2 linked regions of the Homo sapiens genome follow. The protein of the gene in region 1 purifies or fractionates together with the protein of each later gene. This does not show direct contact. Each region holds a gene or a part of one and is shown on either strand. Other genes may lie near its edges.

The links. The genes of interacting proteins can lie anywhere in the genome.
Region 2: the proteins of DEFB118 (region 1) and THOP1 purify together in Homo sapiens (affinity purification with mass spectrometry; one large-scale study listed by BioGRID and IntAct). This does not show direct contact.

Annotation. Positions count from the first base shown.
Region 1 is NC_000020.11:31,367,118-31,371,400, reverse strand, and holds the start of DEFB118 (defensin beta 118 precursor), read right to left. Parts: upstream 2,801-4,283; 5' UTR 2,751-2,800; coding exon 2,693-2,750; intron 1-2,692. UniProt on the Homo sapiens protein: Host defense peptide that exhibits antimicrobial activity against both Gram-negative bacteria, such as E.coli and S.typhimurium, and Gram-positive bacteria, such as S.aureus and B.subtilis. Inhibits cell adhesion of E.coli on intestinal epithelial enterocytes.
Region 2 is NC_000019.10:2,792,003-2,795,502, forward strand, and holds part of THOP1 (thimet oligopeptidase), read left to right. Parts: intron 1-2,761; coding exon 2,762-2,910; intron 2,911-3,500. UniProt on the Homo sapiens protein: Involved in the metabolism of neuropeptides under 20 amino acid residues long. Involved in cytoplasmic peptide degradation. Able to degrade the amyloid-beta precursor protein and generate amyloidogenic fragments.

The DNA.
Region 1 (4,283 bases):
GAAAATACAAAAAAAAGATAAGCATTATGGAGAGAAACGAAGCAGGGAAGGGGTTTAGGAAGTGTGTGATTAGAAGGGAAATAGTGAAAGACTTCCCTTGAGGTTTGAGAAGGAAGAGAGAGGGCGAGCTACGAGACTAACTGGGGGCAGAGTATATATCAGGCAGAGGAAGCAGCAAGTGCAAAGGCTTAGAGGCAGGACCTGTCTCAAAGGTTCTGAAAAACAATAAGGTAGTTATGGTGAGTATAGAGTAAGTTAAGTGGAGAGTAACTGGAGAAAATATAATGGGAGTTGAGATCACATAGAATCTTGCAGGTCTTTGAAAGAAAGCCATTCAGAACTTTTGATCACAGGATGATGAGAGAAATGCAGATTAAAACAACAGCACGAGGGAGGCTGAGGCGAGTGGATCACTTGAGGTCCGGAGTTTGAAACTAGCCTGGCCAATGTGCTGAAACCCCATCTCTACTAAAAATACAAAAAGTAGCCAGGCTTGGTTGTGCGTGCCTGTAATTCCAGCTACTCGGGAGGCTGAGGCAGGGGAATCGCTTGAACCCCCGAGGCAGAGGTTGCAGCAAGCTGAGATCGCGCCATTGCACACCAGCCTGGGCAACAGAGCGAGACTCTGTTTCAAAACAGAAACAAATACAAAAAAGCAACCACAACAGTAAGAGGTTATTTTATACTCATCAGCTGGGTGTTTGAAGGATTATGGTGATAGAAAAACCCTTGTGTATTTTCGGTGAGAGGGTAGGGAGATATCTCTGTTCCTATAAATGTCACTGATTTCTATTCTTCTTCCCCAAATGTAGGGGCTTTTTAAGATAAAGCATCAAGACTTTATGCTTCTTTCATTATCTTAACTCTTTGCTCCAAGAGGATGGCTCCAATTTATCACTCTTAACACTCAGACTTGAAACCCCAGATCATGTAATATTTCCTTCACTTCCCATATGCTGAGTTTTTATAACTTGTGGATTTCATGTACAAAATCTTTCACATCTGTCTCTTTCCTAGTCTCAATATCTCCACTAGCACTCAAAGCAGACACAATTGCTTTCAAAGTGATCACACAGAATTATTCCTGTTTGTGTCTGGAATTGTAACTGAAGAATTACTAAAAACCCCCAGAGTTGGCAATTTCTGCTGGCAGTGTCCTTTAAGATACACAACTTCTGATTACTGACTTCTGGTTACCCAGAATCCCTTGGGGTAGGAACACAAGCATAGGAAGAGCCAGCAGCAGGAGTTTCATGGTCCCTGGGAAACAGGAGAGGTTTCCCTGTTTCCCTACCCTGAACGCCAGGGTAGACCCAGGCGTTCAGAACGCTGTGTGCAGTGGGAGTCTGAACAAGAGTTATTGGCCTCTCTGCAATGAGGGCAGAGGAATAGAGGAATTAATGGAACAAATATATATTTTTAATTTTCTTGCCCACCCCCACCAGACTTACATTTAACTTGGTTATTTGCCCTCTAGGAATCTATCCTATTTAAGCCCATATCCATATATGTAAATATATTAATGTTTGTACAAGCATATTCATTGATGTCTTGTTCGAAAATTAAGAAATGTCTCAAATGGCTATATATGACTTTATATGGCTTATCCTACAGCAGAACTATACAACTTTACAAACAATAAGGCAGATCTTTAGATGGTGACATGGAAAGATGGCCACAAAATAATAAGTGAAAGAAGAGTGCTGCATAGGGCCGGGTGCGGTGGCTCATGCCTGTAATCCCAGCACTTTGGGAGACCGAGGCGGATGGATCACCCGAGGTCAAGAGTTTGAGACCAGCCTTGCCAACATGGTGAAACCCCATCTCTACTAAAAATACAAAAATTAGTCGGACATGATGGTGCATGCCTGTAATCCCAGCTGCTTGGGAGGCTGAGGCAGGAGAATTGCTTGAACCCAGGAGGCAGAGGTTGCAGTGAGCTGAGATTGCGCCACTGCACTCCAGCCTGGGTGACAGATTGAGATTCCATCTTCAAAAAAAAAAAAAAAAAAAAACACAAGAGTGCTGCATAGCCATGCAGGGAGTGTGCTTACTTCGTTATAAAACAGAAATATTTAGATTCATTTTTATGTAAGTTCGATCATACATTGAAATGCACCTTGAAAAACATAAAGGAGAAACAGGCTCTCTTCACCAGTGATTTCAAAGTTCTGGTCATGCCTTTAGATATACTTAAGAAAGCAGTGATTATGAAAAGCTTAGATTTTCACTGTAGAAGGAAGAAGAAAAGCCAGTTCTGTCTTCCGTGTAACAGCTCTACCAGTGTTTTCTGACTTGTTCACCAAATTCTAGAATATTAGAAAACAAAAAGAACCTCATTATAGCTATAGCAGGACTTTTAGGGCCAAGAAAACATAGCAAAGTGGGCTGCAGGAATCATTTTCAAAAGCTGGCACAATCTGGAAAGAGAACAGATGTGAGCCGAGCTTTCCCCTAGTTTCTTAGGCGGCAACTTGGAATATAGAACCAAGGACAACTCTGGATGGTGGGACTGCCCCTGTCTATTGAGGATAACTTGCTCTACTCCCAGGTTTTACCCCAGCCAGGAGCATAGTCCCAGTGTGGGAACTGTGGAGCTGCCCATGTTGGGGAGTACCGTGACACATTGGAATTTTCATGAGCCAGAACCCACTATACCTCTATTTTTGTATCTTCCCTGACCTCTGATTACCTGGGATCACTTGGGGTAGGAGCACAAGCATAGGAAGAGCCAGCAGCAGGAGTTTCATGGTCCTTGGGAAGCAGGAGGTGGTAGATCCAGGAGTTCAGAATACTGTGTGCAGTGTGAGTCTGAACAAGAGTTTTATTGGCCTCTCTGCAGTGGGGGCAGAGGGATGGGCACAGAACCAGCCGGATATCTAAGAGCTTATCCATGCATAACATCAGTCTAGTGTGTGGCACATAAGCTGAGCATTTGATCCAGGCACTGGGAGGGCATGCAGAGGGTTACAAGTCACAGGTTTTGAGGAGGTGTTTGGAGCAATGGAGAGGGAAGATTCACACTGGGACATCTTCCCTAGCTTTCCCCGATCTCTCATTAGGGCTCAGCCCTTCTTCACAGCCCCTCTCACTCTAGCATAAACCTACTTTTGAATGGTCTACTTATCTGTGTGTCTCCCCGCACCAGCCTGTGAAATTCCTGAGAGTAGGGAACGTGTCTTTCATTTTTGAGCCCCCAAGGCACGAAGCATGCTCTCAGTGAAGGTTTGTGGAAATAAACGATAATGAACACATGTCAATCTATAAGCCAAATCCCTCTCTTACATATGTGCCCAACAGGGAAAATGACTTGCCCAAGAAGTCACTTGCTGCAGAAGTTTGAGGGAGATCATTTATAAGACTCAAAGGGGGATGCTACCCAATGTCATTAAAAAAAAAATTCCCTAGCTGGGTGTGGTGGTGGGTGCCTGTAATCCAAGCTACTCAGGAGGCTGAGTCAGGAGAATCGCTTAAACCCAGGAGGTGGAAGTTGCAGTGAGCTGAGATCGCACCACTGCACTCCAGCCTGGGCAACAGAGTGAGACTCTGTCTCAAAAAAAAAAAAAAAAATCCCTGCTGAAGACAGATCTACAATAATTTGGGATGTTACCTTTGACAACGGCACCATGAGGGTCATCAGAGGTCTGGGAGCTGTCCATGAAGACCCCAACATTTAGACTTGCCTTTGGGATGTGGAACCTCGATGTCACCCCCAGAGTCAGCCTAGGTCCTGCATTGCTTTAGTTGCATTTTCATCGTGTTTCAACTTTTGCTCCCTCTTGTTTACTCGGCTCTAAAAGTCTCTGTAAAGCTTTTACAGAGGAGGTTGCTGATTTTTCTCTTCTGGAATTGATAACTTTCACTGTGAGAATAATTGATGGGAATTAGCAGGGTTGCCATGTGATTGAGGAGACTTCTCTTCTGGATGGAACCATGTGGAAAGCGTAGCATGGTGGTGGGCTATTTTCAAATTAATTTTGTTTTATGTTTTTATTTTTTTGAGACAGGATCTCGCTCTGTAGCCCAGGCTAGGGTGCAGTGGTGCGATCACAGCTCATTGCAGCCTCAAGCTCCTGAGCTCAAGCAATCCTCCCACCTCAGCCTCCTGAGTAGCTGGGACTGCCCAGGTATTCACCACCATGCCCGAATATTTAAAAAAATTTTTTTGGGAGAGACAGGTCTTACTATGTTGCCCAGGCTAGTCTCAAACTCCTGGGTTCAAGTGGTCCTCCCTCCTTGGCCTCCCAAAGTGCTGGAATTACAGGCATGGGCCACTGCACCTG
Region 2 (3,500 bases), on another chromosome or scaffold:
GGCTTCTCTCTGATCACAGATTAAGTCCACTTCGCCCAGGAGCCCTTCCTCCTCCTCCTGTCCCCATGCCAGCTGCCTGGATTAGTCCCTGCACGGTACTGACACTGTCGTCCCTGCGGTCACTTGTCTAATCGGTCGCCCGTAAATCCCGAGAGGACAGAGCTGATTTTCTTTCTGTCTTCAGCCCTAGCGTCAGGCCTGGCCCAGAGCCCCCACTACAGGCTTTTTTGTTGTTTTTTTGAGACAGGGTCTTGCTCTGTCACCCAGGCTGCTGTAGTGCAGTAGTGTGATCATGGCTCACTGCAGCCTCCATCTCCCAGGCTCAAGCCATCTTTAATTTTTGGTAGAGATGAGGTCTTGCTATATTGCCCAGGCTGGTCTAGAACTCCTGAGCTCAAGCTTCCTGCCTGCCTTGGCCTCCAAAAGTGTGGGGATTACAGGCATGAGCCACCGTGCCCAGCCCACCCCCCCTCTAAACACACGGAGCCTCCTCCAGACGTGCGGAGCCTCCTCCAAACATACCGAGGCCTGGGGACATTTCTGTTGACCCAGAACTGAGGTAGTGGCCAGACTGCAATTTGAATTCAGGTCTTTCTGCTGCAAAGTATATGCTTTTTTTTAAAAAAAATTATTATTATTAGGGTTTTTTTTTGTTTGTTTTTTGTTTTTTTAGAATGAGTCTCGCTCTGTCACCCAGGTTGGAGTGCATGGTGCTGTCATGGCTCACTGCAGCCTCAACCTCCCAGGCTCAAGCGATCCTCCTGCCTCAGCCTTCTAAGTAGCTGAGAGCACAAGTGTGTGCCACCGTGCCTGGCTAATTTGTTTTTTTAAACTGCTCCATTGAGATATGATTTGCATAACATACAGTTCACCCATTTAAACCACACACTTCAGGCTGGGTGGCGGCTCACACCTGTCATCCCAGCACTTTGGGAGGCCGAGGTGGGCGGATGACTTGAGGTCAGGAGTTCGAGACCAGCCTGACCAACATCCAGAAACCCTGTCTCTACTAAAAATACAAAATTATCCGGGCGTGGTGGCGCATGCCTGTAATTTCAACTACTCGGGAGACTGAGGCAGGAGAATCACTTGAACCCGGGAGGCGGAGGTGGCGGTGAGCCGAGATCACACCATTGCACTCCAGCCTGGGCAACAGCAGCGAAACTCTGTCTCAAACAAACAAACAAAAAAAAACCCACACACTTCAGTGGTTTTTAATAAATTTGCAGCATTGCTCAGCTGTTACCATTCTTTCATTTTAGAGCATTTTCATAACCCCAGAGAGAAATTTTATACCCTTAAGTGGTCACGCTCCATCTCCCCTGTCCCCAGCCCTGGCACCCACGCGTCCCCTCCTGTCTCTGTGGATGGGCCTGTCCTGGATATTTCGTAGAAATGGCACCACATGGCCGGGTGCAGTGGCTCATGCCTGTAATCCCTGCACATTGGGAGGCCGAGGCAGATGGATCATGAGGTCAGGAGTTCAAGACCAGCCTGGCCAACATAGTGAAACCCCATCTCTACTAAAAATACAAAAATTACCTGGGCGTGGTGGTGGGTACCTGTAATCCCAGCTACTCGGGAGGCCGAGGCAGGAGAATCGCTTGAACCCAGGAGTTGAAGGTTGCAGTGAGCCGAGACTGCACCACTGCACTCCAGCTTGGGCAACAGAGTGACACTTCGTCTCAAAAAAAAACAAATGGCATCACACACTGTGTGACTTTTGTGTCTGGCTTCTTTCTCTGCATGTGACATCATCGGGCTGCATCCACACCGCAGCCTGTTCCAGAGCCTCATTCCTTTTCATGGCTGAGTCGTGTTCCACTGGGCAGAGGCCACATCTTGTCAGTCCATTCACTCGTGGATGGACCTTTTGTCAATTGTGAATCGCGCTGCTGTGAGTGCACGTGTGCAGATTCCTGTGTGGATGTGTGTTCATGTCTCCTGGCTGGATCCTGGCACTGGAGTCTTGGGGGTCATGGGATGACTCCATTTTAAAGCTTTTTTTTTTTTCTTTTTTTTTCTTTTTTGAGATGGAGCCTCACTCTGTCGCCCAGGCTGGAGTGCAGTGGTACCATTTCAACTCGCTGCAACCTCCACCTCCCGGGTTCAAGCTATTCCCCTACCTCAGCCTCCCAAGTAGTTGGAATTACAGGCACGCGCCACCACGCCTGGCTAATTTTTGTATTTTTAGTAGAGATGGGGTTTCACCTTGTTGGCCAGGCTGGTCTCGGACTCCTGACCTCAAGTGATCTGCCTGCCTCGGCCTCCCAAAGGGCTGGGATTACAGGCTTGGCCACCACACCTGGCCTAAAGCTTATGCTTTTCTAGCCACTGACACTTCCTCTACTCAACCTAAAGCACAGATGTGCTCAGGAAATTGTAAGTAGTTTATGCATTTAAATGTGACCATCGGCAGCTGCAGCTCTCTCTGGAATGGAATTCCGTCAGCCTCTGTTTCGTCGTACCCAGCTCTGTTGGGTCCTCCTTGGCTTGGAGGGCTTTGAGTTGAATCCTTATTTTTCTTCGGTCTGTAAGATCTCCAAGGACACAGGCAACAGCACCTCCTTTCTCCATCCCAGGGCCCAGCCTGGAGGGGACGGTGGCGTGTGCCTCTAGTCCCAGCTACTTGGGAGGCTGAGGCAGGAGAGAGTTCACGGGGGGATTCAGCAGACAGGCCTGGGAGAGGGGTCCGGGCAACACCTGCCAGTTGTACTGGGGCCTGTTCTCACACCTGTCTCCCTGGTCTCCCCTGTTTTAGTTCAGAGGAATATCCTTGACTTCCCCCAGCATGTTTCCCCCTCCAAGGACATCCGGACAGCCAGCACAGAGGCCGACAAGAAGCTCTCTGAGTTCGACGTGGAGATGAGCATGAGGGAGGACGTGTACCAGAGGATCGTGTGGCTCCAGGTGAGGGGGCCCTGCGGGGAGTGCAAATAGCCTCCCAAGTAACTAGGATTACAGGCGCCCGCCACCACACCCGGCTAATTTTTGTATTTTTAGTAGAGACGGGGTTTCAACGTGTTGGTCAGGCTAGTCTCGAACTCCTGACCTCAAGTGATCCGCCCACCTCGGCCTCCCACAGTGCTGGGATGACAGGTGTGAGCCACTGTGCCCGGCCCATTTTTTGTATTTTTAGTAGGCACAGGGTTTTGCCATGTTGGTCAGGCTGTTCTCAAACTCCTGACCTCAGGTGATCCGCCCGCCTTGGCCTCCCAAAGTGCTGGGATCACAGGCCTGAGCCACCACGCCCGGCCACACATGTGCACTTTCATTTCCTTTCCTGGCCATCCTAGTGTGACCCAAACACCCCATCCCCACATGGCGTGAGCTGGCAGGGCCTGGCGGCATGGCTGCGTGGGCTCCTGCTCCCCCGGATGCTCCTCGCAGTATGCAGTGGGGCCTTTGCTGTTGATGTCACATGATCAGGAGAGACCCAGAGACCCTCCTGCTGCTGTTCATCCTCTTAGGCGAGGACCCCTGGGAATGTGCTGATGTGT